Linked DNA regions of Homo sapiens. The protein of the gene in region 3 interacts with the protein of the main gene of each other region in a pairwise test. Each region holds a gene or a part of one and is shown on either strand. Other genes may lie near its edges.

Region 1 (5,043 bases), on a different chromosome or scaffold from region 3:
GGTCCTCTCCGCCGCCCCCCCTGCATCACCAGTGGCTTCCTCATTTTCAAGTGCAACAGCTTCCATCTTATTTTTCTTAACTAAAGTATTTTTGAAGAACAGAAATATTCTATCCACATTACAAAATGCCTGGAAAATGCAGAAAGAGGACAAAAAACCCACCCACAATCCACTTGGAGGTCACCTCCTGGCCCCACGTGCTGTCCGCCACAGTCTCCCTCCTGCCCTCCCGTGAGCCAGCCCCTGGGCCCACCAGGCCTGGCCCTGCGCTTCCCTGCAGCTTCCCGGCCCCACTCTCCTCCCGAGCCTTGGGTTCTTAGTGCTTCCTTCACCCAGCAGCTCTGGTGAGGGGGCTACTGAGTGCAGGCACCAGGCGAGAAGGCAGAGACCTGCCTCAGAGAAGGAGCCGTCAGCAAGGCCACCCGGAGGCCGGGGAGGAGGAAGCAGCAGGGGGCGGCCACGTGCGGCGCAGGCTGCAGGGTTCCCCGGAGCGATGACCAGGGCTGTCCCCGCAGCAGGAAGAACGAGCGTGGTCTCTTGTTCCCCGCTTTTCTCATAGGAGCCGCATCCGGCTGGCTCCACCTGCTTGCAGTCCGGGGCCCACATGCTACCCCTGCAGACATCCCTGTTGCCCCGCACCCCCATGCCCGGGCTACTCCCGGGCGCCTGCCTGCAGCTCCTGCCCGCCCCCCTTGGATTCCAACAGGCCACCCAGCCATGCTGGTCCTCACTGGCCTCCGGGGCGCTCACTGGCAGCCTGCATTGCTGCTTTAACTACAGCTTATTTTCATTGCAAAAGATTTTAAACGTATGGAAGATGTGGAGAGAATAATAGAACCCACACTCTACGGATTCAAATCTTAACATTTTCCTATTTGCTTTAGACGCATTTTTAAAGAAATAAAGCACCGCACATGTAGTTTGAAGATGCCTGTGTTCTCCTCAATCTTGCCGCATTCACTCTCCTCAGGCAGAACTACTGTCCTGAGTGAGGTCCCTAGCCGTATCTGCGAGGATATATACGCAGGCACGCACATACATGCACACTCACACACAGAACACACATGCACACGCACGCTCACCTATACACACGAGTAACAGTGGTTTCTCAAAGTAATTCGTCCGTGGAAAAAACTCAAACCCCCAGAAGTGCACCGGAAGCAGGTTCCTGGGAACTCTCCCTGTGGGGGAAGTCTCTGCACTCCCAGCACTGCGCTCTGTGACCCTCAGGCTGCTGCAGGCCGCACCTGGGACACCTGCCCTCAAACAGCTGCCCGCCCTGCAGGACACCATTTTCACCAGAAGGCAGGCCCTGTGGTGACGTTTCCACTCTTTGCTGTGAGTGCTGCCTCCAACGGCCACATACATGCAACCTGTCTGTGGTCTAAATTCCCAGAGGAGGGAATTCTTTTTTTTTTTTAGATGGAGTCTCACTCTGTCACCCGGGCTGGAGTGCAGTGACATGATCTCGGCTCACTGCAGTCTCTGACTCCCAGGTTCAAGCGATTCTCCTGCCTCAGCCTCCCGAGTAGCTGGAACTACAGGTGCACACCACCACACCCAGCTAATTTTTGTGTGTGTATATTTTTAGTGGAGATGAGGTTTCACCATATTGGCCAGGCTGGTCTCAAACTCCTAACCTCAAGTGATCTGCCCACCTCGGCCTCCCAAAGTGCTGGGATTACAGGTATGAGCCACTGTGCCCAGCCAGAAGAGGGAATTCTCAGCACGCCTGGTGGTGGGGTTGCCTTTATCTCTCTCGCCAGACCTCTGGGAGCTCACACCACCAGGGAGCCCACCTGGCAGGTGACTGAGTCCACAAAGGAGGCGCCACATGCCCGGGTGTGCTCATGCATGTGTGTGGGGCACTGCCTGGGAACGCCTGTGCTGCACCTGTCTGCTCTGGGGCCTCATGTCCCCTGCTGCACAGTGACAGCAGGAGGAGCCCGATGGCACCTGAGGAGTGGGGTGCACACATGTTCATGTATGTGATCACATGCATGTGTGTACACGTGATTGTGCATTCATGTGCATGTATGGAAACATGCACATAAGCAGGACGGCATGTGAATGTGTGTAGATGAAGCTCATACATATGCATGAGCACCTGTGCATGTGTGTGTGCAGTGCCTATGAGCGTGCACGTGTCGTGTGTGCCTGTGTTGTGTGGCGTGGGCACATGTGCACTCTTGGGTTGTCCCTATCTGGAAAGGCCCTTGCTCCTGACCCAGCTGTACTTCTGCTGCCAGCTTGTCTCCCTTTCTTTCCTAACTTTCATCTAGACCATGTCATGGATGGTCCTCAGGGCAGTCTTGCTACACAAGCCCAGTTCCCACCCACCTGGTGGACCCCGGAAAGCTGGCCTCTAGGAAGGTAGGCTGCAGGATCCAGAAGCCCCTTCCCCTCCAGTTCCTGCTGCAGCCACCACGAGTCCCATTCCTGCCCCATTCCACCTGCCCAGCTCTAGGAAGGCACAGGGCTCTGTCCCAACACATGCTGTGGCTGTTCCTGTCCTTGCCCCTGGGCCCCAGGAAAGTAGCATATGACACTTGAGGCCCGCCCCCGCCCCAGCTGCTATGTTCCTGCCTCCTCTCCACCCTCTGCCTGGCACCTGCCTCTCCCCTGCCTCATGCCTCCACTTTCACCTGTCCTTTCCTGGAGGTGGCCCCAAGCTTCAGGTCTGACCTCTCTTCCACCTGTAGCCAGTCCTTCCAGCAGCCCCCAAGCCAGCCCCCACTAGGCTGCCTGGCTCTGCCCTCCTTGCATCAAGAGAGAAGTCTGGTGTCCACATGTCCCAAACACCTCCTGTCACTTAGTTAACCTCCCTTTCTAATGTACAGAGACAGCTGCCCCTCCCACTCCACAGGGGTTCTCAGGCGCACAGCAGCAGGCAGCTGGAATGGAGAAGAGAATGACATTATGTCATTTGGTTTCCAGTCTGCTTTGGTTCTATAGTCACCTTACACTAATGGTAAGTGAAACTAATCTTCTGTTTAATGAAGTAATATGCAGTGCTTTTAAACAAATTGTAATTAAAATGGGAGTTGATGGGAAGAGAAAGCGTGAAGTAAACAGAAGAGGAGATGCATGGTCAGAGTTCCAATCAAGAGTGGTAACCGTGCTGAAGTACGGGAAGCAGGTCCGTTGTGAGACCCACCCACCCATTCCACAGATGGGAAGCCTAGGCTGCCCCTGCCCTGCGGAATGGCGCTGCCCAGACCCCAGCTCAACCCAGCCCCCACTCTGCCTCCCCACATAGCACATGGGAGCTTTTGTGTCCTTGATATCCAGGCCCCTGAAGAAGGGCATGATCCCTGATGGAGGGAAAGGAGGGGGGCCCAACATGAAGAGGTGCCCGGGTCGGGAAACCTGCTGGCTGAGGACAAGCTGTCCTGGCAGTTCCAGAGACAAAGGGGAGGTGGTGGGCAGGGCCTGGGCTTGGAGGGGTCTGCACGAGCCAAGAGCCTCTGCAAGTCAGGCCTTCCAGGTGCCCTGACATGAACAGGAGCCTTTGCATTGCCTGTGGCTCTCTTGGGGTGAGGCAACAGGTCCAGGCAGGCCTAATGCGTCCAGGTGGGGTCAGAGCAGGTTCTCATCCTGGCCTGGACTCCTGGGACCCCAGGCTGGCCCCAAGCCCATCTCTCAGAGCCAGAGGTGGCTGCGGGAGGGAGGGCAGCTGCCCAGGGATCAGGCTGGATTGTGTATAATCCGCGATTAGAGAGCGTGGGTGGGGAGGAGACGGGGCCTGAGGCGGGCCGTGGGCACCTGCCCTATTTACACAGCTGGTGGGTGCCTTCTGGAGAAAGGAGGTGGAAAGGAGGCAGAAAGCTGGCCACCTGCCACCTGGGCCCAGGTGCCCCCAGGGCAGTACCCAGACTCTTCCTTTCCCTGAGTTCCGGAACATCTCACCCACCCCTTTCCCAGCCCTGCCCAGCCCCTCCCAGGAGGGCCACACGAATCTCCATCCTGCCCTGCTCACAGCTCCTTCCTGCAGCCCCCTCCTCCCCAGCCAAGCTCAGGGAAGACTCTGGAAGGGCAGGTCTGTGCTGTGGCCCCTGAAGGTGAGCCTGGACACCGAGCCCCGAGCTGGCCACTCCACACCCACCCTGGGCCCTGTCCTCAGAGGACTCACCCCAGATACTGCACAGACCTTGAGGGCAGGCTGCAGTCCTGGGCTGGGGTCATGCCAACCTGATGGGGTGACCTTCCAGGCAGGCTCCTTTGGGCACACCCCTCCACTTCTGCAAGGGCAGCAAGCCCCTTAAAATCAGATGAGCTGCTGTAGAAGTGGCAGGTGTCGGGGGTTCTGACCACTCCCAGAGGCTCTGCGGTGCACCCACCCCAGCTGCACGGCGGCCCCTCCCCATGCCTCCCTCCTTGAGTTCTGGTCGCCCAGGCACCCCGACCCTATCAGCATCAAGAACCTGGCCTCTCCCCTCAGCTGCTTGCCTCTGATCCCCTCAGTCAACCCCTGCTGGGGGTCCTCAGCCGACCACAGAAGCTCTGGGGGTGAGTACCCCTCCAGGGGCTGCCCCCTGCTCTCTCGGGCACCCAGGGTGGATCCAGTGCCCCTTTGAGCCTGCAGCCTGCATCCCCCTCCTCGAGCCGCTGCTCCTGTGGGTTCACTCTCCCCACACCCTTCTGCCCTGGCCGCCTGCAGCAGCCCCCAGGCCCAGCCTGCAGAGGGGACGGTGGCAAGCAGACCCCACCTGTCCCTCAAGTACTTACCTAGCCACTGCCCTGCCATGCCGAGCCCGTGGCCCAGCAGCCTCTTCTCTAAGAGTATCTCCACACCACCCCCAGTCTGGTGTCTCCCCACAGGTGGGGGTGGCAGCAGCCCTGGGATGTCATCCATCCCTGTAAGTGATACTGCGGGTAGTCGGCAGACAGACCGGGAGGTGGCCCAGCCTGGCTCCTCCCTGGCCGGGGAGGCTGCCCAGCCTGTGCTTCCTGTCCCGCCCGCTCTGTTTCAGCCTGGCCCCAGCTGCCCCCCAGATCCGCGCCTCCCGATCCCCACCTGCTCCCTGCTGTCTGGACTTGGAC
Region 2 (6,074 bases), on a different chromosome or scaffold from region 3:
GCACATAATAGCCAATTACTATTTAAATGAATAAATAAACATTTGTGTATGTATATTGTCTCAATACATTTGCAGATCTTCAAGAGGAACGTCAATTCCAAAAAGAGGGGGAAATTGCTCTGTCTCTTGACTACAGAGAGGGCTATAATCCTAAAGCCTTAAACAAACCCAATCATCACCCAGAAAAGTACAGCTAATCATCACCATTAACCAAAACCCTACTATCAGAAAATTCAGTAATTACACAGATTTCAAATAAAAGGCAGGATAAAAAGCAACCTCAAAAGAAAAGAAAACCAGAGACAAACAGAAACCCACTCATGTCAAAGAGGTCTTTCCTTGGGCTGCTCTCAGCACTGCTGACCGCAGCCGGCCAGGCCTGTGGTGGGATCTGCTGAGTGTTGACGTAGGTGGGTGCTTCTCCCGTGGGGGCCACGTGCAGTTTCCCTTCTGGCGTGCTGTAGATGTCCGAGGACCCTGCAACAAGAAAGTGAGCCCCTTTTCTTTTACGATGGTGACACTATTCAAGCCACCCAGCCTTTCACAAAGAAGCTCTTCTGCCTGCAAATGGGAAACCTCCTCCTTCGGATTCCTATGGGTGATATTCTCCTCTTCTGAGCTTGTCACCACACACTGCTGTGACCCAGCTAGGATGTTTTCCAGTCCTTCATATCAGCATGGGGTCTGCCAGCCAATGTCAGGGTGGACACCTTGATGGCTCCACTGTGATGGCCTTAGCAAAAATTTTGGCCCTTGCTGCCCCAAGACCGCAGGAGCCTGGCAGGCAGAACATGCCTGACCTCCTCTCCTTGACAAATGCTCCAAGATCAAATAACTGAGCAGAAGGACCACAAGCCTTATATTAATTGCTCTTGTTTTCTTTTTAAATATAAGCAAATGCTTTATAAATTAACTTCATTCAAGCAATACAATAGAAGCTCTGTACCTCCTAAGGAACTGAGAGAGACTCCTTCCTTATAAAATAGGGCTGCAGTTACTGCCCCTGGGTCTGTGAAGGAAGCCCAGGGTGGGTGTGCAAGTGAAGAGCCCCCTCTGCTGAGGCAGTGATGCTGCCTCGATGTGACTTCACAGCTAGCCAATGGGTGTGCTGAGGCTAGGCCAAGGCTGTTCTGTCACCGAGACCTAGTGTGAAAGACCTAGTGCCTTGACAGGACTTCACAGCTAGCCAGTGGGTGTGCTGAGGCTGGGCCCGGGCTGTTCTGTCACCCAGACCCTGGGTGAAAGTGACACCCAGACCTAGTTGCCGGAGAACGCCTGTTCAGATCCTTCTCGGAGTCTTTTTGTGTGTGCGCCCTGTCTCCAATCTTCTTACGTAAACATGTTCGCAAGAACACCCTGTGGTATTCACATTTCTGGAAAGAGGGTGTCTTTCATACCCTATGGGCGGTGGTGTGTTGAAGCCAGCTCAATCCAGCTGGCAGGAGTTGGTTCAGGGCTTTTTAAAAAGCGTTCCCAAGAGCCTGTGGCTGGACATTTGCCAGCACACCACTGTCTCCCAGGCTGTAGGTGTGAGAATGAAGTGTCGTGCTAACATTCCCTCGCTGGGGAGCACCACCTGCAACATCATGGACTGTGTTTCTACTCTCCTATTTCTCAACATGCTTTCTACATTGAAGAGTCTAGTCAGATTACGCATCCTTGCTTAGTGACAGCTATTTGCAGTTTACACCTTTGTGTACATTGCAAACGAATCAGCCTTTAGAAAAGAATTTCATTAAAAAATTTTAAAAGGAGAAGATCAAGAGCCCAAATGCATAATCTTCCTGACTGCCCTTTCCCACCATAGATGACAACAGGTGCTGAGCCGGGGCAGGAGGACACGTGCCATCGTGATACCTGGAGTTCACTTCCATTAGGGACAGTATCTGCCAGCAAATTAATAAGTGACATTCTAATTTGTTATGTGAGAAAAGATATTTATTTATTTTTTTTTTTTTTTTTGAGGCAGGGTCTCATTCTGTCACCCAGGCTGGAATGCAAGTGGCATGATCTCGGCTCACTGCAACCTCCACCTCCCAGGTTCAAGCAATTCTCCTGCCTCAGCCTCCCGAGTAGCTAGGATTACAGGTGCCCACCACCATGCACAGCTAATTTTTTGTATTTTTAGTAGAGACGAGGTTTCACCATGTTGGCCAGGCTGGCATCGAACTCCTGACCTCAGATGATCCACCCGCCTCGGCTTCCCAAAGTGCTGGAATTACAGGCGTGAGCCACCATGCCCTGCCTATTTATTGTTTTCAAAGAAGAGCTGGAAATTTATTGAGAGCTCTGAGTCTCAAGTTCCAGGCCAGGAGTTCATTCTGCGACATCATCTGTTCTCGATCTGGCTGGAATAACTTGAATATATCAAAAACAAGGCCTATTTTAAAATAAACCTGATATATTTTACAATAAAGTAAATATCTAAGGGAAATAATGTGTCTCCTTTATTCTTTAGCAGTTATTATATGTCTATGCACACACATGTTATGGAAATGCATTTTAAATGTGTGTAGAACAAGGATAAATAGCCCATAATGAAAATGTCCCTCTGGCAAAGTTATGACTCTGATTTGCTATTTCCAGCCTATTCTGAGGCAGAACATGTGGTGGCTTCTGCCAGGCCTTATGTTTTATTGACTGGGCCAGCACTGTGGGTCTTCCTGCATCTGGGGCAGGCGAGACGAAATTCTCTTACACAGAGGACATTTTAAAAATGTATTGTCATTTGCTTCCTGGCATAAATAGCTATAATGAAGGAATAAGCCTCAACATTAAACCAATAATGTTTAAATTTAGATACATAGAAGCATCAGTTGCATCCATCCCCTTCAGATCTTATAGACTTAGTAGCCAGGATCCCAGAGCTAGTGAAAGAGTTATAAATGTTTTTGAGAAGGGAAAAAGGTTAAAATTAAAAGACATTCTTAAAGGATTAGATTGAGATATGAATACATTCATACATATTTGTATGTGTATATATAACTGTCTAGAGAATAAAGACTTATGTGAGCAATTAGCAGTTACTTCTTAGATAGTTGTATCTAAATTATGATGGCTGTATCTAAATATATTTGAATTATTTGCAGATATCTGACTTATAGACAGTTATATCGACATTAGTTTTAATGTGTGATGTAGGTGCATATTATGATTGTAAGATGCAGAAGTGTTCTCTGAGAGTATCCAGGGCCTGTGAGAGACGTATATCCCTGGTGCCACCTCTGCCTCAATCCCCAGCTTAGAGTAGGGGGCTTCACATCCCCCCTGAAGCTGACCCTGAGTAAAGGGAAGGAGAACGAGACAAGGAAGGAAAGGCAACAATTTGTTGTAGGAGTCACGGGGGCTCAACCTCCACCTTAGAGTTGCCTCACCAGTTCCCATAGGAAACTGGGGTGAAGTATGCCTGAGATGTCAACTTCTCAGCACCCCTGGGCATGGAAGCTCTCCCAGCATGGAGGTGTACAGTCTCAAGGGCATGAGGCAGTGACTGCAGACGGGGTGTGAATGGTCCTGGAGCTGCAGGGAGGCACTATCTGATTGGTGCCAGGAGATGTCTGCAACACTGTTGCTTTTTTTTTTTTTTTTTTGAGATGGGGTTTTGCTGTTGTTGCCCAGGCTGGAGCGCAATGGCATCATCTTGGCTCACTGCAACCTCCACCTCCTGGGATCAAGTGATTCTCCTGCCTCAGCCTCCTGAGTAGCTGGGATTACAGGCACCCGCCACCACACCCGGCAAATTTTTTTATTTAGTAGAGTTGGGGTTTCACCATGTTAGGCTGGTCTCGAACTTCTGACCTCAGGTGATTGTCCCGCCTCAGCTTCCCAAAGTGCTGGGATTACAGGCGTGTGCCACCGCGCCTGACCACACCGTTGCTTCTATTTCTATAGTCTAGTCAGGATTCTATAGCAACACACACAGCACATATATCCAGGGGTCACTCTGTCAGTCCACAGAAAATAGGCGACCCAGTGGTGAGCATGTTACTTTTGAAAAGTGTCTTTTGTGTTTCTCACCCATCTCACCTTGCCTCTCACCTTGCCTTAAAGGTGTTTGCTGCCAGTCTTCGCCAAAAGTGTCTCCTAAGTGTCTTCCCTGGTAATAAGTCTGCTCTTTTCCTGCAAACTATAGACACATGTAAATACACAGAATGAAAAAATTATTTTCTTCTCATTTCACCACTTTTGAAAGCCACAAGACAGTCGGCGAGTTGATCCTTAAGGTGGTTCGCATCCTCTGTTACACCCAATTTTCCCTTCATGCCTCATGGTTGGCATTAAGATTTGGGAAATAAGTTTGTGTGGGTGTGAGGAAAAGGCTGCATCTCCATCAAAACTACACATGCCCCCCCGCTTGTTTTCATTACCCCCCCCACCCCTCCCGAAGTGTGACTGTAAATCAAGCTCTTCCATATGTATGTCCTAAAATAAATTTCAATTACAGAGTATCTATGTGTCAGAACACACTTCCCACATAACACATACGCCCATGATCGTTCACACTTGGTCAAGTCCACTCTGTAAACCAGGAAATTTCCTTCAAAAAATCAGGAAATTCCCTCTCAGTGTCAGATCCCTGAGCTCAACGTTATTTTGCCATTTTTAGTGGTGTCATTATCATTCACATAAGGTAGTAACGTTAAAAAATTTCCTATAACAAAACAGAAATATCATAACTCTAGAAAGCAATTGCCTTACTAGAATTTTGAGTTGGACATAAAACAAGGGAATGAATAAAATAGAAAACTCATAAAATTCTCATCATTTTAAGCGTCTATATTCACTCCTTTTCAGAGAACCCAATGCCTCCCAAGCCTTTTTAAAATCTTAAATTCTCTCTTTCCCTCACTGAGATCACAGTATGATGGAATATGTCTGAGGGTACAGAGGACACCCCCAGACTCATATCCCAGGAATCACCACACAGTTCCAAAGCATTTGGCCAATGCTTTATGATGTTAACCCAAAGCCTCTCTTCATCTGCATGCCTCATGAAATCCAGTGAGAGAAAGCTCATGATTTACTGTGTCAAAAATGAAACAGAACATCAGCCTGAAATAAAACCAAAGAAAACAAAAGGAAATAAAGTAGAGTTAGCCTCCATTCCTTATATAAGAAAAAAACTATAAGACTTACCTGGGCTGTGTCAGGAGCATGGGGTCTGGGTTTCAGTCTAGTATCAAGAAAGCCCCCTGGAGGAGGCATCTTGCTTGGGATGCTGTTGTAGTATGGGTGGTCTGAGCCATCTCCCTCCTCTTCCGTCCATGGCTCATCCAGACTCTGCATTCTGTTAAAGGAAGATTTCCAAGGGCTTTAGCCAAAAGTTGAACTTGCAGCCAAAATCAACAAATCTAATGTTAGCGCCTGTTATTAAGAAAAGAGAGTTTAGTCAGTGCCTCCTCAGCCATCCAGGTCTCATGCATAGATGAAAAGCAGATGAGTGGTTTAGCAAAATATCTCTGCCATATTCAGAGTTTCACTCATTGGAACATTTCAATCATGTTTGAAGGATGTCCTTTTGTAAAAGTACATTTTAATTAAAAAAGAAATTATGCCTAAGGATAGCCAGCTCCTCAAGGGACAGCACACATTTTTGTAAGCCATGAAATTGATCCCAAACAAAACCAACTACAAAATGGAAATTTAGTGATATGAGGGAAAATGGTAGAATATGAACCTCTCAAAATTCTCCCTTCTGCTATTTGAAAAAACTGTTGTGCTTCAAAGGACATTATCAAGAAAGTAAAAATACAAACTACAAAATGGGAGAAAATATTTGCTAACATGTATCTTAAATGAGACATGTATCTAGAATATATAAAGTACTCGTACGACTCAACAATGAAAAGACAACCCGATCTTAAAAATGAGCTGAGGATTTGAGCAGACTTTTCTCCAGAGATACACAAAAAGCCAATACATGCATGAAAAGTTCCTCAACATCGTTAGTCATCAGGAAAATGCATATCAAAACCACAACCAGAGACCACTTCATGCCCACTAGGGTAGCTATAATCAAAGAGATGGACAAGAAAAAGTGTTGATAAGAACGTGGGGATATTAGAACCCTCACA
Region 3 (6,074 bases):
TTCTTTCCTATCAAAGACCCTCTCAGCTCGGCCCGTCCCTAAAACTGATTGTGCCTGAGGGGACAACTTTTCATTGTCCTTCTGCCAGTGAGAGTATTTGTAGTTCAGTCACCTCTCCCCAGCAACCTATCCTTTCTTCTCCCAAATTACAAATGGGCTAATTTTTTAGGGGAGAGGTCACCATATTTCTGGATGATGACAGTTCCTGTCCTGTGTGTGAGAGAGAGAGGAGTTTGTGTATGACAGAGGGTGTGTGTTTTATGCACACACAGGGAATTCATGAAATCTCCTCAGTGGCAACAGCTGAGCAGCCTCTCATATCCTTCCGTGGGCAGGGGGGGGCATCCCAGCTTGTGAGTGGGATCCCCAAGACTTCTTCACTCGGAAGGCCACTGGCTACATTGAAGGTAATGATGCATGTTAACTTTGTGCTAGTAAAGCAAACAGCTTATACTGTCTCAGGCTGACATTGGGACTTGACAAACCCATCAGCATCTCTGGGTGATCATTTCAGCAAAGATGCAAAGGGAATAGAGGACAGGGAGGATGACCTCCAGCAGTGAACTGGCCTTGACCCCTCCAGTTTGACAGACTGTCCAGCCAGCCTCTTTTGGTGCAGAACCTTCTTACAAGACAGCTGCAAACGGGCTGCTCCAGGGCTCTGAACCTAAGCTTGCACTGGTTTGCACAGTGACTACCCATGCTGAGTTCTGAGTTACAGATATTTCTACTTTCCAGAACCCCGTTTCCTTCTCCTTTCCAATTTGCTAAAGTGGATATTTATTGCAAGGAAAACAGTACTGAAAGCTTTTATTGCATTTATGCAGCACTCAGCCAATAAAACCTCAACTCAGAGGTACCATATTTTATGTAGACAGGGATTTGGCTTTGACAAGATTCTCCCCAAACTGATTTTCAGTGGAAGGAGCCACTTCTTATACAACTACTCGCTAAATTTCCAGATTTTAGGACCAGTGTATGAAATATACTGGGATAGATGTCAGTGAGATGGACAATGTAGTTTTTTCTCTTTTTTTTCTGGGGCCGCAAAGGACTTCAAGGCAGGTAAGAGATGAAACCGCTATCTATTTTCAGCAATATTCATTTGGGGGCTGAAGAGCGGCTGCTGCTGTTGTCGATGATGACGATGTTTTTGCAAATTAAAAAACAAACCAAGTAACTTGACAAAAGCAATTAGAGTTGGTTGGAATTTTCAGAAACAACAAAGAAAGTTTCTTCTATTTTCCTAGGCTCGGCTGCCAGTCATTCTCCCGTGGTTGCTTTTCATTTAGTTGAATAAGACACCTTGTCTTTAGGTGCTGCTTTCACTTTTTCACATCTTTCTCTTTCCATCTCTGGAGCAACAAGCAAATCCTCCCTCTTGCCAAATACGAGACATTTCCACTCAGTGTAAAGCCCTTCAGACTCAGATATTTTTCCCTGTGGTACTTAGCAAGGCATCTTCTCAACAAAAAGAAGGTTCTCCCCACAAGTCCTTCATATATACCAGTTTAAGAGAATAAACATTTCTCCATTCCATTTTGTAGGTCTTGCTGAACAGTGTTTCCCCTGATTCATCATCGTTTCTGTCCACTGTGTCTCTTTGTCTTAATGTTATATGCCCTTCGAGGCTGTTTGTTATGATTTAAACATGTCCCCCAGATTCCATCTGTTGAAAACTTTATCCCCAAATTCTTGCTGATGCTTTGTGGAGGTGGAGTCTTTGGGAAGTAATCCAGATTAGATAAGGTTATCAGGGTGGGAACCCCATGATGAGATTGGTGGCTTTATAAGAAGAGGACACTCCTGCTGCCACCTCATGTGACGCCCTCTGCCATGTTATCAGGCAGCAAGAAGGCCCTCCCCAGATGCCGGTGCCATGCTTTTGGCATCATGCTTCCCAGACTCCAGAACTGTGAGAAATTTATTTATAAATTACCCAGTCTGTGGTATTCTGTTAAAACAGCAGAAAATGGACTAAGATACCCTTTCAATCACATCTCTTGTGTAACTCTTTCCCTGATTTCCCATATTAGAAGAAGTTCTTTTCCTTTGAGTTCTCGCTTATAGTGGTTATTAATACATTTTTGGCACATATTATGGCTGTTTTGGAGACCTCTCTATTTAGAGCTTTATGAGGACAGACAATCGTGTCTTATTTCTGTATCTCTTAGCACTTAGCTTTGCATCCAGGAGGCATTTGATAACTTTTTGTTGAATCGACTCTCTATTATATTGAGCTTACTCTAATGACCGGCAGTATTTCTTGTGGGGACACTATTGCCATTTTGAATGGGACAGTTCTTCATCGTGTGGGATTGTTGCATCATTGGAGAAGACTTGTGTCCTTGGCGTGTGCTTAACTAATGCCTGTAGCCATCCCCCAACAACTAAAATATATCCTATGCCTTTCAAACTGACCCCTTGGAGCAGAGGTAGGGGAGAGGGAGAGCCATGAGAAAAGACAGTTTGAGGCATTGATTAAGCAGGGTAATTCCTATTTATTGTACAAATATTAGCTTTAAATTAAGGAATAAATCTAGACATTTTGTGTTCCCAACATACAAAAATGGTAAATACATGAGGTCGTGGATAACCTAAATACCATCACTTGATCATTACACATCGTATGCAGGTAGCAAAATAGTACCTGGACCCCATAAATATGTATAAATATTATGTATTAATTTTTTGAAAGTTAAAATTCCTTGGGAAAAAATTTTAGACATTTTGGTAATTTCCTATCATGAACTTTGCATTTGGCTTTAGTGCTCATTAGGGCACCCACAGTTTTAATATGAGCTATTTGGGATCTGAGTGTCAGAATATGGGATTCACAATGGAAGACTCAACAGCAACTGAGGCAGAAGTTCCTCAATCAACATTTGTTGAGTAAATTAATGAGACTTCTTAAAGATAAAATAAGAGCTGGAATAGGGCTGGGCACCGTGGCTCATGCCTGTAATCTCAGCACTTTGGGAGGCTAAGGGAGGTGGATCACTTGAGGTCAGGAGTTTGCATCCAGCCTGGCCGACATGGTGAAACCCCGTCTCTACTAAAAATACAAAAAATTAGCCAGGTGTGGTGGCGCACACCTGTAATCCCAGCTACTGAGGAGGCTGAGGCAGGAGAATCGCTTAAACCCAGGAGGCGCAGGTTGCGGTGAGCCAAGATCGCACCATTGCACTCCAGCCTGGGCGACAGAGTGAAACTCCATCTCAGAAAAAAAAAAAAAAAAAAAAAAAGCTGGAATAGAGTCTCAGACATTTACAAATGACTGGCAGTCCTCAGTGGTGTCCCATGGCTCCTGAAAGGAAGGGAATATGAAAGCCAGTCTACTGCCAGTTTAAGATGGGAGCATTTCAAACCTCACACAAGGAGAGCTGGAAAATTGCACAAGGTCTGTGATAACAGAAGTTGCCATGGAAATTTCTCACCCCATGTTTCTCTCTATATAAATCCATCCTTTGGACCCTCTTTGGACAGTTTCCTTGCAAACCAGCAACATTTATAATACTTTGCTATTTAAGGCTCTCCATTGTAATGCTGAGTTATTGGGTCTTTTTTTTTTATTTGACTTTGGATTTTTGTCTCCTCATTCAGCCGCCTCCTACAGAGAGAGATGTGTAATATCATTTAAGTCATGGCTCACTTGACTGGATTGCTGATGGCTACCTTTTCAAAATTATCTTAAATATGAGATTCATTTGTTCTGATAGTTTTATAAAACATGGATCAGGGAGGAAAGCTGGGTAGGCCAAAGCAGTCTTATGGTAGTTCCTGGTTAAAATAACTTGTAGCTGTTACAAATAATGCCATTGGCTGCCAGCATTCTCTGGCGCCATATCAACTGGGAGAAATGTGATTGACACAAGTTGAATGCATTAGTATCCCTAATGTCAGTCTTAATCTGATGTCTTTTGGGATTAAGACAGTCTGTTTCTTCTGTTAGTCATCTTATTTGCTAAACCATTAAACGAATTCACTGCATGTTTACTGGATGTCAGGAGTTGGTAGCAGTTTTAGAAACCTTCTCTAATACAAAGATTATTAAGACCCAGCCCTGACTTCAAGAGTTCAAGGTATAGTTGAGGAAACTGACAGAGAACAGAAAACAATAATAGAATTAAGATGCACAGTGGTGTAAATGGGCACAGGCTTACAGCAGCTCAGAGCAGGAGCACTCGAGTGATTAGTAAGGGGAGGGAGTGGAGAGTGGTTAAGGAATGCTTCCAGAGGACTGACTCCTAGACTCTGAAAGGATCCATGGAGTTAGAGTTGGATGAGGCTGGAAAAGGCATTGTAGACATAGACACAGAGGCCAGGGACAGAATGGTGAGTTCAAGGAGTAGGAAGCAGTTCTCATCAATAGACGACGAAAGAATTTAGATGTGACCCGAATTTGAGGGAAGATGTAGGGATCAGACTGACAAACCCCATGGGAGCCTTATCACAGACCTTGGTTTAGCTGAAGGTTTCATAACATTGGCTGGTCTATAGGAGGCGCCCAGTAAATATTTGTGTAAGGGAGAAGGACGAGCAGCGGGACATGATTGAAGGGTTTCAGCAAAGGAACTGCGTGGCCAGATTTTCTTGTTTTTTTTTTCCTGCATGTTTACAAATGTTACTGTTTTTTATTGTATGTACTATACATAAAACACTTGAAGAAAACAATTTTTAAAACCCCACCCAATTCTAACCCCTGAGTTAGATTTGGGATATCACAAACGAAACATTTTACTCAGTGTACATTCAATTTTACCTCAGTCACTGTTGCTGTAGTGTGAGTTTTTCTCAACTCGTTGAACCATATGATTGAAACGTGATGTTTCCTTTGCCTTTCATTCACTTTTTGTATATACGACCATGGCTATGATGATAGGGAATATTTATAGGGTGATTCAATTTAGGAAGCAATAGATGAAGCCTAATAGGTAAAAACAAAAAACAAAACCCAAGGACTACAAAATTGAGTAAGACCTAAGTAGTCTGTACCATCTTTGGAATCTTAGAAAACTCAGATAATGTTACATATTCATTTTTTTTATTTTATGGAAGAAAATGTAAGGTTTAAACTGGGAAATGATTTGTTCAGTGCTACACTTACTACTACGCAGTGTGGAGGGGGTTAGTAATAAAGCTTCATTCTCAGGATTGAAGTAACAAATTATTTACCTAGGACAGTGCCCAGCACATGATGCTTACTACATAGTGATTTTCTTCTTCCATTTGTGATTAGAGTTTCCTGAAGGGAAAAGTAGAGCTCAAATGGTGAGTGTCCAAAAAAAAAATATGACATTAGAGATTTCTCATAAATTGTGGAAACATATTTAGAGAATCTATCAAAACTATAGTAAATCTCATCTTACGTATCAAAGCAGAATAATTGGTCTTTGGTGGAGGTGGTCTGGCTGATGTTTGGACTCGGCAAGAAAGATTGCTACAACTGTTGAATAACATTTGGTTTGTGTATAGAAGTGTTGGTCCATGATGACATCTACACAGATTATTTTCCATTCTTAAATTAACATTTTCTATAGGCAGTCTTTGTTCTAATACATGCTCCTCTGAAATTGAAGCTGAAAGTGTTATGACCAGTTTCACTTTAAATGAAGGTACCTTTAAGTCTGAAATGAGCCGGTGCTTTCAGGTTTAGGCTGTTGAATACAAATACATACAAGTTTGATTTTTGTTTTTGGCTTAAGATGATAAAATTACTTTTAACGGGGTTTTATTAAATTATATTCAATAAATAACTAAATTGTGATTTCACAGTTAAATTCATTATAAAAGTCCCTGCCCCATTCTTAAGAATGGATAAGTGTAAAAGAAATGTAATTTCATTTACCTTTTGAATTAAGCTAAAAGAATATTTAGTAACCTAATTGTGATTTTTAAAAAAATAATTTCAACTTTTATTTTAGATTCAGGGGGCACATGTGCAGCTGTGTTGCATGGGTATATTGCATGATAGTGAGCTTTGGGGTGTGATGAATCCCATCACCCTGGTAGTGAACATGGTACCCAACAGTTTTTCACCCCTTGCCCTACCTCCCTCTCTAGTAGTGCCAGTG
Region 4 (6,074 bases), on a different chromosome or scaffold from region 3:
TAGTGAAGACAGAAAGAGCTAACAGAGCAGAAAGTATCAGTTGTCGAAAGATCCAACAGTCTTCTGAAGGATCCTCGATAATCCATGCTTTGGCTTGGAAAGGACTTCTGGCGGTTGTCACAAAGTCAAATGTGACTTTTCCCCTTGATTCACAGGTATTGCCAACTGAGATAGGAATAGCTGTGATTAGTAAAAGGGAGCTAATAAGTATGAGGAATACATGGACGGGCATCTCTATACTGAGATAGGACAAGCAGTGGTCCTAACAATGCTGCTCGCTAATTTATGGTCAAAATCCTACTTGGCTTGGGGATAGGAGATGGCAGCATTTAAGTGTTAGTGTTTCTAAGAGTTTTGTTCTAGTACTCTCCTCTTACTCTGGAATCAGGTCTCCTAAATTACATCATCCATATCTACCACTTTAAATACTACTTACGTTCTGATGGCTTTCATAAATATATACAACTACCCAAGGGACACCTCAAACTCATTATCTACCCACAAACATCTGCTCTTGCTTTAGTATTCTGGATCTTAGTGAAGAGCAAGGGATCCTTCAGTTACGCCACCCAGAAGCCCAAGATACCTTTATCCAGTCATTCGCTTTTATTGATTCTACAAGTTAAATCTCTCTCAAATTCACATCCTGTTTTTTCTCTCCATTCTTAACTGTCACTGCCTTAATTCAGGTCTTCACTATATCTTGCTCAGATTTTGGCAACAGCTTCACCAGATCTCTGCCTCCATTCCAACCCACCTATAATCTATCTTTGTATTTCTCTAAGAGATACTTCTAAAAATCTGATTATTTTCCTGTCTACTTAATCCTACAACAGTTTAGAATTGCTTAAAGGACAGCTCCTTAGTAAAACATATAAGGCACGCTAATAATCCAATTCATATCTATCTCTCCAACTCTCACTACTGACCCTGAGGTCATTTATGCATTAAAAAAACTGCACTGATCTAGTTATACTGGTCCCAAAGGCATTATACTCTGCCATAAACCATGCCATGTTATTTCCTCTGCGTGGATACCCTAGAATCTCCTTGACTATGAGCAAGGATTGTGGTCTTCAACCTTGTACACCCAATGCCTGACATACGATATATACAATAAATGGATATTACATAACAAAATGAGCCCCTTTCAATTTTAAAATAGCACCAGATTCAAATTCCCATTTTCCTAAAAAAACCAAATGTAACTACAGTTACTCATAGTTGGAGAGACTTTATTTCAAGAAACAAAGGAAACACTTCACTTTTGCTGTTCTTTCCTTAACTACTTAAATATTTCATCAAATTTTGTATTTTTGCAGGATTGTAGAAAAGACGAATGACTGGAATACTTGAAAGAATAATTCTGAGAATACTATTCTATTATCTTCATCCTACTGTTAGGCAATCCTTGAAATTCATGTTTAATAAGTTAATAACTAATCTTCAGTGACTGAGTAGGATGAATTTTAGCTAGTCAATCAAGTTACTTAAAAAAATGAAACAGAAGTAATTTTAAGAGGCATCAGATTGGAAAAGTGAAAAGAGCACTAGAATGAGTAGTTGAATTTGCATCCCTGTACTTCTTCTAGAGAGGTATACAGGTAAGTCACAATCTCTCAGGTTCCTCTCTTCACCCATAAAATGGGGATAACAAAAGTATTATTTCACAGGGTTCTTGTGAGAATAAGTTAATCCATACAGAACAACCCCTGGAACCTACTGCCATACCACCTAGTAAGGATGGTTAGTAAGGAAGCCATCAAAGACTAATAACCAGACTGTCTCAAAGGGACTTGGGAGCCAACTTGAAAAGGCTTGCACTGGCCAAAGATGTAACAATTTAAGCATCAATAAGAATGGTAACTGCAATGGATTAAAAAATAGTAACTAGTTTAAAGGCTGCAGTTTCTGACATTAAAAAAAAATTGGTCATCTTTGGAGAATGCTAGATAACCAACTCTTTATTCTGAAAACCAGTAATAAAGAGAAAGAATCAACCAAACAGATGAAGTCAAGTTTCTCCTCACAGAAGTATTTCAACAAATAAATGAATCCAGGTGGAATGGCACTATTTGTAACCCCTAATGAATTAATGGATCTAGGTAATGATCACCAATGGCTCAATGGCTGATCACTCAAAAAAAAAAGATATTATATGTCTTCTGATAAAAAATAGGCCTATAAAATAGTCTTGCAAACAAACAACAAAACAACAAAATATATATATGTACGCCCCAGATCTAACCCAATCATCAAGAAATACAGAGAACAAAGGAATGTGTTAAACTATACCATAGGCGTGCAATCAGAAAAGTCTTGACTAAAAAACTCTATAGGATAAATGATCTGTTTTCTTCAACAAATTAAAAAATAAAAAAGAGAGGCCAGGCGCGGTGGCGCACACCTGTAATCCCAGCACTTTGGGAGGCCGAGGCAGGCAGATCACGAGGTCAGGAGTTCCAGACCAGCCTGGCCAATATGGTAAAACTCCGTCTCTACTAAAAATACAAAAATTAGCTGGGCGTGGTGGTGTGCGCCTGTAGTCCCAGCTACTCAGGAGGCTGAGGCAGAAGTATCGCTTGAACCTGGGAGGCGGAGGTTGCAGTGAGCCGAGGTCGTGCCACTGCACTCCAGCCTGGGCGACAGAGCAAGACTCCGTCTCAAAAAATAAAAAATAAATAAAAAAGAGAGATAAAAGAGGAGCCTATGGAGATTTAAGACAGGCAAAACCAAATACTGTTTACATACTTGAATGACAAAATATAAAGTAAGAAAATGATCACCATAAAAGCCAAGACTGCAGGTCCTCTGATGGGGAAGCAATTGGTAGGGAAATGTGGTAGGCTTCTGAACTGGCTGGCCAGGAACCATCTCCTGACATGGGCAGTGATTACAAGGGTGTTAACCTTTGTAAACTTATATATAATTCATTAAGCTGTACTTTTGTGCAGTTTCTCTATTTGTTATTTTTAACAACAAAAATTTAAATGGAATGATCCTAAACACAGGGACCTTATAATCCTAACTGTGCCAATCAGTGTTCTCCCCAGTTGCTATCATATTTAAACATGAAAAGTAACATTCCTAATCCTTTGGAATATATTAATAATTCTTATAAAAAGTCCACTAAAGTATTCTGAATGCACTCAATAATGTCAGCTAGTATCATCACGGTTTTGTATTTGAAGCTGAAAACCTCATACTTACTAGTTTGCTGCTGCTGCTGTGTATTAAATCCTCCAAATCCCAGTCCAGTTCCCAAACCAGTACCTAAACCAGTACTAGTTCCCGTTGTTGTGCCAAAACCAGTACCAAATCCAAAACCTTTGTTCTGAGTACCACCAAAGAGTCCTTTGAATGAAAAATTGGAACTTCGTAAGTTAAAAAAAAAAAAAAATCTGACCTCTACTTCATTTACTTCTATGAATGACTTAAGATGGCCTCTTACCAGTAGTGCCTGTGTTAGTTGGGGCAGAAAAGCTGAATGCAGAACCTGCAGTTGTAGATGTTGTCCCAAATCCTCCAAACCCACCTAATTAAAAAAGAACAAAAATAGAAAGGAAGAATCTTTTGTATATATAAAGGCAACTTCTTTTTAAAATTATTTTATAATTGCTACATATAAAATCAAAATATATTGATCTAATTTTTCCTTTCCCTACTTTCAAGATCAATTTTTTAAAAAACTATACTACCAATCAAGAAGTCAAAATGTTACAAGAAATGAACTAAGCATTTAAAATAGAAATATCACAATGTAATATATACCCTTCAATTAAAGGGGTGGTTAACAGTTACAGCTGAGAAAACACATTAAGCCTATTGCCATAATTCTAAAATGACTATGTATGTACTTTTAGAGGAGGTGTTGCAAATTCATATGCCTAGAAGATTTAGACTGATAACAGTAAAGAGTAAAGTAGACTATGTGTTTACTGATAGGTGGAACTGTTTAAAATGAATAGTTTTTTAGATCAGCAGTTCCTAAATTCCAGCAGATACAAGAAAGGTAGTTTAGCAGTGTCACATATTCCCATTTTTTACCCCAAGAGAAACAGGAAATCTGGATTTTCTATGTAAAATTTATTGGTTTTTGGCTGGGCGCGGTGGCTCATGCCTGTAATCCCAGCACTTTGGGAGGCCGAGGGGGGTGGATCACAAGGTCAGGAGATCGAGACCATCCTGGCTAACACGGTGAAACCCCGTGTCTACTAAAAATACAAAAAATTAGCCGGGCGTGGCGGCGGGCGCCTGTAGTCCCAGCTACTCAGGAGGCTGAGGCAGGAGAATGGCGTGGACCCGGGAGGTGGAGCTTGCAGTGAGCCAAGATCTTGCCACTGTACTCCAGCCCGGGCGACAGGGTGAGACTCCGTCTCAAAAAAAAAAAAAAAAAAAAAATTTATTGGTTTTTAAACCCTAATTCAACTACTTTTTTTTGCAAGGAATTCAAATGTTTTGAAAACAGCATGCCAAACATATCACATTGGCAGACTTGTTGCCAGTTAGCAACCTTGGTTTTGGTGAATTAATTTATGTCTAAATTAACTTATATTTCTACTTAGTCTCTGTCAAGACTAAGTAACTTTTCAAAGGAAGCATACCAATATACTTACCTCCAAACAACAAGAATGTGTTTCTTGAAGGAAGAGATTTGACAGATAAATGGAATGCTAGCCAATCTAAAATTGTTTTGTTATTTTTGTAACTTATTGTCAGTCTTCAGCTGATTACCAATGTGGTATCAAAAAGCCTTTCAAGACAAATGTTTGAACCATTAGTGTCGAATTATATTGCAGATTTTTTGGAATCTTCCTTTAATCTCATTTATTTCTGGTATACAACACAGATTCATCAATATTGCAATATAGAAAATACAAGAAGAAAAACATGCAACCATTTTATATTAATCACCTCATTCTGATTTGGAAAACTACTCAAGAGTAAGCTGCATGTTGCATGCAGGCACAACTAAATATTCTATTTACTTGTAGGTTCTACTGCAGTACTGCAAACTATAAACATTTTCATAAAAGTCACCCACAGTACTAAGCACTGTTGTAATTTCTTTTCATTATTCTTCACTTCCATAGAATAACTATGATATAATCTGAATTGGCTACGCAATAGAAACACTAGTCAGTTTCTCATCATGCTCCACAACATCAAAAATGTTTTAGTAATAGCAGATCTGCAAGTATACAAAATAAAAAGTAAACAAGAAAGTCTATCAGCCCTTTGCTGAAGGTTAACACATATAAAAGTAGTTAAAACATATTACATTATCATAACTCAAAACTTAACAGTGATAACTCCAAATGAACATGAAATCAAGCAAATACCAACAAGTTTATTTATTGTTGTTGAATTATGAGCTGGGTGGCTTTATTCAGAAACACAAATTTCAAAGTAAGATTTCTGTTTTACCCAGTGCCAATTTTAAGCAAACAAGGAAAAGTAAACACATCAAAGGACAGTGATATGTGATTACTTCGAATACATCTTAATTAAAATGCATCATCTTGTCTTTGAAGTTTTCAAATATTCTTCGAACTGTTTTCAACTCAGATGCTAGGGTGATAATCACATTGCAGTAACCAGTGAATGAACAAAATAACAAACTTCCCAATTAACTTTTAGGGAGTAAATAATGTTTATCAAATGCATATAATTGGCATGGGCACAAGAGGCATAACGTAAGAGACTATGGACGATAAATTCATATACGAGCAGCTGAAGAACAAGTTTTTTTCTACAGTGTCACTATGTAAAGTACCCATAAACCTATTTTAAATGTATATATCATTATTGTTTTGCAAAATTTCTAATGAGCTGCAAACAACCCACGTGCATATGAAAATCTTCATAATTATCTTTTTGAATGCAAAGACGTCTAGCTTACCTTTTAGAATTCGATGCTATATCACATAAAACTAAACTGCTCTCTTTGAGCATTTCCCAAAATTCCAGCAAAGAACTGGGGATTCTTTCTATAATTACAAATCTTATAGAAATTACACATCTTATAGTATCCTAATCTGCTGAGTTGACCAAAGAAATACATTATTATCATT
Region 5 (6,074 bases), about 130 Mb from region 3:
AGAGGAGGCGCCACACACTTTTAAACAACCAGATCTCCCAAGAACTCACTCACTATCGTGAAGATAGCACCAAGCCATGAGGGGTCTGTCCCCATGATCCAGACACCTCTCACCAGGCCCCACCTCCAGCACTGGGGATTACAATTGAGCATGAGATTTGGGTAGGGACAACTATCTGAACTGTATCAGCAATAGAGTGTGATTATAAGTTATGCTGTAGGAATAGAATTGTTGTCACTGAAAGATTCCCTTGGCCATGGGAGCCTCCTGGCTCTATGAAGGAATCAGCCAATGCTTATCCCAGGGAGGTAATGATAAGGTCGAAGTTTGACAAGAAATCTACGTTTTCTTAAGCTAAGTAGTAGGTTAACAGAAGATATGTTGTGTGTTAATAGTTCTATTTACATCTCTTTCTCCAAGGTTATACACACTCTGCATCACTAAGTCAAGACACCATTCTTTGACACTGGCTAATAGTAATAGCAATCATAGCCACTGTGCATTAGCACTTACTCCACATCCTTGTACTGAGCACTACTTACATTATGTGGTGTTGTCATTGTCACCATTTCATACATAAAGAAACCAAGGTTTTCAGAGATTGAATAACTTGTGCAAGATCACACATCTGGTAGGGCAGATCCAAGATCTGTTTGTCTCCAAAATCTGCTTCTGTCCTGCCTGGGAGACCTTGGGAATGACGGCAAGTGGTTGTAGGAAGGAGGGCTGATGTCAAGGTGGCTGTGGGGGCAGGAGGCTGAGGGAACTCACTGACCCTTGAGGGACTCCTTAGGTGGGGGATTCTGGGTTTCCTGTTGGCAGCTGGAGGGGGAGTGCCAGTTCCCATAAGTGGTTATTGCCCAGGTTGTGACCTTGGCTTGGCCAGTGATTGGTTCATTTTGGAATTTCATGAGTGACCCCCAGGCAGGGTTCTTACAATCACGCTGGAAGACCACCCAGGAAGTTCCTGTGGGGTAAAATGATGCAGCAGCCTGCTTTCCTCAGGAGGTCTGAAACCCTCCCCATGTACACACACACACACACACAAACACACACACATCCACCCACACACCCTCCACCCCTCTTGGTGTCTTTGGCCTTTTTTCCTAGCTTGTTTGTTTCTATGGGTGTCTTCAAGTTCAACTAGAACCTATGGGAATGACTTAGTTTTGAACCTGTAAGAATGAGAAGTAAACAATTCTTTGTACTGACTTTGAATTTCCTTTCTTCTGTTGTCCAAAGGTGAAGGGTGACAATGTGTCCCAGATTTTTTTGGATATTCTACAAAAAAATAGATATTTTTTTGTAGAAAAAAGCTTATTCTACAGTGTTGTCCCAATTTTAAAAGCCCTAGAAAACTGGTTAAGGCAAATTATAACCAAATCAAATCACTAATTATTACAATAAAGTGTAACTAGCTACAAAAATCCTAAAATTACAATTTTAGGCTTTGAGAAAATATCACTGATGATAGAGGAAGAGTGACAGTCTTTGTTTTGGGTCTTGGGATGGCAGAAAGAAAATATTTAGTAGGGAGTAAAGATCAGTGTACCCCTTGAAGTGTGGTGAAGATGGGTGGGTTTTGATGCTCTGTGTGTGTGTGTGTGTGTGTGTGTGTGTGTGTGTATGTAGAATTTCCCTAAATTCAAAATGATACTTACATTTTGATAAACCCAGAGAGTTAATTAACATGGCATAAATGTGCTAGCTCATTGTTGTTTTTCAGGGAAAGAACTAGAGAGAGACACAAGTCACCCCGGAATAAAGACGGCAGAGGGTCAGAAAAGTCTGTCACCATTCAACCTCCCACTGGAGAGCCCCTGTTGGGAAATGATTCTACTCGGACAGAGGAAGTTCAGGTAAGGATCAAAGGTGGTCTGTAAGCACACTGCCACTTGGCCAAGACTCCTGTCTGTAAATGTTTTCCTTAGGTTCTCTTGGATTTTTGTCTTTATTTTTCTAGCATGCTAATTAGTTTATCTATGTCCCATGGTCTCTTGTTGGTCTAAGGACAGCCTGTCCTGCCCTTTGGTAGCGTGGGGATTCTTCTGAAGTATGATTGGTTGGCCTGCTTTACATGGTGTGGAAAAGTAGCCAGCAAGGTTGACGACAGGGTTGGGAAGGGAAAAGCTGAAGTCTCCCACGACTCATTTCAAAATGGAACAGTATAAGGGGGAGAAGGAAACTCAGAAAACCTAAGAAGTTTAAAAAACATGGGGCAGCCCAGACTGACCATTACTACTAGAGCTATGCAGGAATTGAGAGGCCGCACGCTCAGATGCCTGGTAGAGAAACGTAAGTTAATTAAGGAGGCCCTGGGTCGAAAAGAGGGGGCAAAAATATATTAACCTAGCTTTGGGTTAACAGCAATCTGTGCAGTGCCTCAGTGTCAGTGCTGTAGTGTGGTGTGAAGGAGCCTATGGCTAACTGGAGAATGCATTTCCTCTGTAAAGGAAACAGCAGCTCCGCAGCTCCAGACACCTACTGTTGCTCAGGAATGCAGGGATTCATTGTTTGAGAAAAGCTGCAAATCAGGATTTTATGTGGAATCCTAACTTTACAGTATTTTTGAAATACTGATACTTTATTAATTTTTTTGAACCATTGAGTGGGTTCTTCTCCAGGTTCCAACTGTCTGGCAGCCCACCTGATTTAAATAAACATCTGAGCTATACACAGAAACATGTCTGCATACCCTCTGCACATCCTGAAGTATATATACACATGTCCAGCCTTGCCCCTCATAAACAAAGTGGTGTATGATACACAGCTGTAAAGATAGATATAGGACTATAGATAAGCATACATCTGTACATACCTGTGCATACACACAGGTAAGCATTTATAATCAAATAGGTGGACTGAAACTGGAATTCCTCAGAGTACACAAGGTGTTCTTGGGACACAAAACTACAATTGTGGGTTGAACGTGGGATTCATTGAGCAATGAGCAAATGCCTTTAGTGCTGCCTGCCTTGGCTCTGGGATGGCTGATGGTCGGATGGGGCCAGTCTTAGGATTGGATCACCCTGGAGTACTTGAAGGGGTCAGTTTCCTCCTGGATGTGGGTTCAGAGGTGCCAGTGGCCTACAGCAAAGGCTCTTCTTTCTCTGCATCTCCTCTGCACCTCGTAGCTGAGAACACTTTGAGAAGCTCTTGGTGTTGCCCCAGGATGATCTGGTGTGAAAAGCATTGAGATGGGTGTTTGGAGGCTGTATTTTTTAGTAGCTCTGTTACCTTGAGCAGTCACAGCCTTTGTAGGCCTCAATTTCTTTATTGAAAATCTAGGGGTTTTGATGAAAGCATCTTAGGTGCTTTTTCTTCTAAGAACCTGAAGCTTAACAGGATCCTTTGTGTATCTACATGTTTTAGGCATACATGTGCACCCCAGGAAATTCTCTCATGCCCTTTCTAGTCAATCTCTGCCCCACCCTCACCTCTCCAAGGCAACCACTGTGTTGATTTCTATCACTGTAGATCAATTTTGCCTGTTTTTGAATTTAGTATAATTAGAATCATATGGTCCATCTCCTGCCCCCACCCACCCGCCCTGCTTAGCATAATGATTTTGAGATTTATCCATGTTTTGGTATGTTTCAACAGCTTATTCTTTTTATTTTTGCTGAGTAGTATTCCATTGTATCAGTCTACCACAATTTGTTATCCATTCTCCTAGTGGATGGACATTTGGGTTTTTTTTGTTGTTGTTTGTTTGTTTTTTGAGGCAGAGTCTTGTTCTGTCGCCCAGGCTGGAGTGCAGCGGCATGATATCACCTCACTGCAGCCTCTACCTCCCGGGTTCAAGCGATTCTCCTGCCTCAGCCTCCCGAATAGCCGGGATTACAGGCACGCACCACCACGCCCAGCTAATTTTTGTATTTTCAGTAGAGATGGGCTTTCACCATGTTGGCCAGGCTGGTCTCGAACTCCTGACCTCAGGTGATTTGCCTGCCTTGGCCTCCCAAAGTGCTAGGATTACAGGCGTGAGCCACCGTGCCTGGCTGGATGTATATTTTTATTAATTTTTGGATAAAACCTGAGAGTGGAATTGCTGGGCCATATAGCTAAGTGTATATTTAGATTTATATGAAACCGCCAGAGTGGTTTTCCAGAGGCACTGTACCACGGTCCACTTCCACCAGCAGTGTTGGAGAGTCCTGGCTGCTTCTGGCCATCGTCTGAAATAGGAATTTCTCTCACTGTAGGTGATACTTCTGACTTTGCAAGTTGAAGGATTATTAGTTTATGGGATTGAGACCTTCACCACCACCGCTTCTTACCATAGCCCATACATTTCATAAATCATGGTTTTTTTGGTCATTACTAGATTCGGAGTTATTTGATGATGAGCGATGTCTGTCTTGCTGATTTAGCTACTAACTGAAACTAGCTTTTTCTAAGTTGGTGTCCTAATTTCACCCCCTTTGCCACTGCATCTGACTGTTTTCTTTCCGAGTGAAAGGATACATACAAATTTCAGAGGCAGAAACCTCTTTGGCCTCCTGTGTCTTTTCAGCGCCTTGCTCTTATTGCTTCATTATTGTTGCCAGTTGTTTTTAAACAACAAAATCCTTTAAAATTCTATCAACTGGGTTTTGCTAAGTGAATAGACTAATTGCTTTAACTAGCAACGGCCTAGAAGTTTAAAAAGAGAGGAAGCTAGAAAGTAAAAGATAACATTTTAATAATCCTGGTTGTTTCTATGCCCTTGATGTTTAGTTCCTCGTGAAAACATGTTTTAGAAAGAATTTTTAAGCCAATCTGGCCATACACGGATTCCTGGATTTGCTTAGCTTGGTCCATGAGAAATATTGTTAAAGAGTGCTTGACACTGATGCTTGTTAAGTGGATCTTGTGAACATCATAAGGAGATTTTTTTTTTTTTTTTTTGAGACGGAGTCTCACTCTGTAGCCCAGGCTGGAGTACAGTGGCACGATCTCAGCTCACTGCAACCTCCGACTCCCGGGTTCAAGCGATTCTCCTGCCTCAGCCTCCTGAGTAGCTGGGATTACAGGCATGTGCCACCACGCCTTGCTAATTTTTGTATTTTTAGTAGAGACGGGGTTTCACCATGTTGGCCAGGATGTTCTTGATCTCCTGACCTCCTGATCCGTCCGCCTCGGCCTTCCAAAGTACGGGGATTACAGGTGTGAGCCACCGCGCCCCAGTCCATAAAGAGATTTTAAAATGTGGGTCCTAGCTACAGGTAAGCTTGGGTTTGTGTAGTGGTGTAAGTTCCCTTGCTACGCCCTTTGCTCTTCTGGGCTGCTAGAGGGTGTAGTAATACTCCCACCTCCAAAAGTTGGACTTCGTAAGCCTTTATAACCCAGCGTGAATTGGAAAGAAGATGCAGGAGGTTTATCTCTATAGATGAGCTCTCACAAGATTAGTCTAATACCTGGGTTGCGCATTGCAGGGCAAACAGCTCCAGGCCCTCAGAGCTGCTCAAGGCTTTTCAACCCAGGGGATGATAATCAATGTTATGTCAATGAATCAGCCAAACAGACAGAAAGATCACATTATGTTTTCTCTGTTTGAAAAGGTAAATACCTCATACATTTTGAAAATTTCAATGAAAATCGTTTGAGTTAAGAAGTTCTAATATTTAAAGAGTTAAGCTTTCATTTTCTGGAAGCCTTTGTGAATAGGGCTGGGTAGATGCAGCGGGCCCTGCATGTTCACTGCCCTTTGTAGCTTTTACAAATGACCTGTGTCATGTCATCCTCACTGTCTTCTCCCCACCAGGATGACAACTGGGGAGAGACCACCACGGCCATCACAGGCACCTCGGAGCACAGCATATCCCAAGAGGACATTGCCAGGATCAGCAAGGACATGGAGGACAGCGTGGGGCTGGATTGCAAACGCTACCTGGGCCTCACCGTCGCCTCTTTTCTTGGACTTCTAGTTTTCCTCACCCCTATTGCCTTCATCCTTTTACCTCCGATCCTGTGGAGGGATGAGCTGGAGCCTTGTGGCACAATTTGTGAGGGGCTCTTTATCTCCATGGCATTCAAACTCCTCATTCTGCTCATAGGGACCTGGGCACTTTTTTTCCGCAAGCGGAGAGCTG

The links.
Region 1: the proteins of SMYD3 (region 3) and CAMK2B interact in a two-hybrid assay, tested with the Homo sapiens proteins (one large-scale study listed by BioGRID and IntAct).
Region 2: the proteins of SMYD3 (region 3) and SHC3 interact in binary tests that used the Homo sapiens proteins (3 or more experiments, as listed by UniProt).
Region 4: the proteins of SMYD3 (region 3) and NUP54 interact in binary tests that used the Homo sapiens proteins (3 or more experiments, as listed by UniProt).
Region 5: the proteins of SMYD3 (region 3) and VANGL1 interact in a two-hybrid assay, tested with the Homo sapiens proteins (one large-scale study listed by BioGRID and IntAct).

The regions. Positions count from the first base shown.
Region 1 is NC_000007.14:44,221,035-44,226,077, forward strand, and holds part of CAMK2B (calcium/calmodulin-dependent protein kinase type II subunit beta), read right to left. Parts: intron 4,858-5,043; coding exon of another isoform or gene 4,729-4,857; intron 4,280-4,728; coding exon of another isoform or gene 4,182-4,279; exon of another isoform or gene 4,151-4,181; intron 1-4,150. UniProt on the Homo sapiens protein: Calcium/calmodulin-dependent protein kinase that functions autonomously after Ca(2+)/calmodulin-binding and autophosphorylation, and is involved in dendritic spine and synapse formation, neuronal plasticity and regulation of sarcoplasmic reticulum Ca(2+) transport in skeletal muscle.
Region 2 is NC_000009.12:89,041,708-89,047,781, forward strand, and holds part of SHC3 (SHC-transforming protein 3), read right to left. Parts: intron 5,288-6,074; coding exon 5,137-5,287; intron 4,127-5,136; coding exon 4,039-4,126; intron 478-4,038; coding exon 319-477; intron 1-318. UniProt on the Homo sapiens protein: Signaling adapter that couples activated growth factor receptors to signaling pathway in neurons. Involved in the signal transduction pathways of neurotrophin-activated Trk receptors in cortical neurons.
Region 3 is NC_000001.11:245,921,827-245,927,900, reverse strand, and holds part of SMYD3 (histone-lysine N-methyltransferase SMYD3), read left to right. Parts: intron 1-6,074. UniProt on the Homo sapiens protein: Histone methyltransferase. Specifically methylates 'Lys-4' of histone H3, inducing di- and tri-methylation, but not monomethylation. Also methylates 'Lys-5' of histone H4.
Region 4 is NC_000004.12:76,140,939-76,147,012, forward strand, and holds part of NUP54 (nucleoporin p54), read right to left. Parts: exon of another isoform or gene 4,617-6,074; intron 3,536-4,616; coding exon 3,452-3,535; intron 3,355-3,451; coding exon 3,211-3,354; intron 1-3,210. UniProt on the Homo sapiens protein: Component of the nuclear pore complex, a complex required for the trafficking across the nuclear membrane.
Region 5 is NC_000001.11:115,657,915-115,663,988, forward strand, and holds part of VANGL1 (vang-like protein 1), read left to right. Parts: intron 1-1,726; coding exon 1,727-1,859; intron 1,860-5,746; coding exon 5,747-6,074.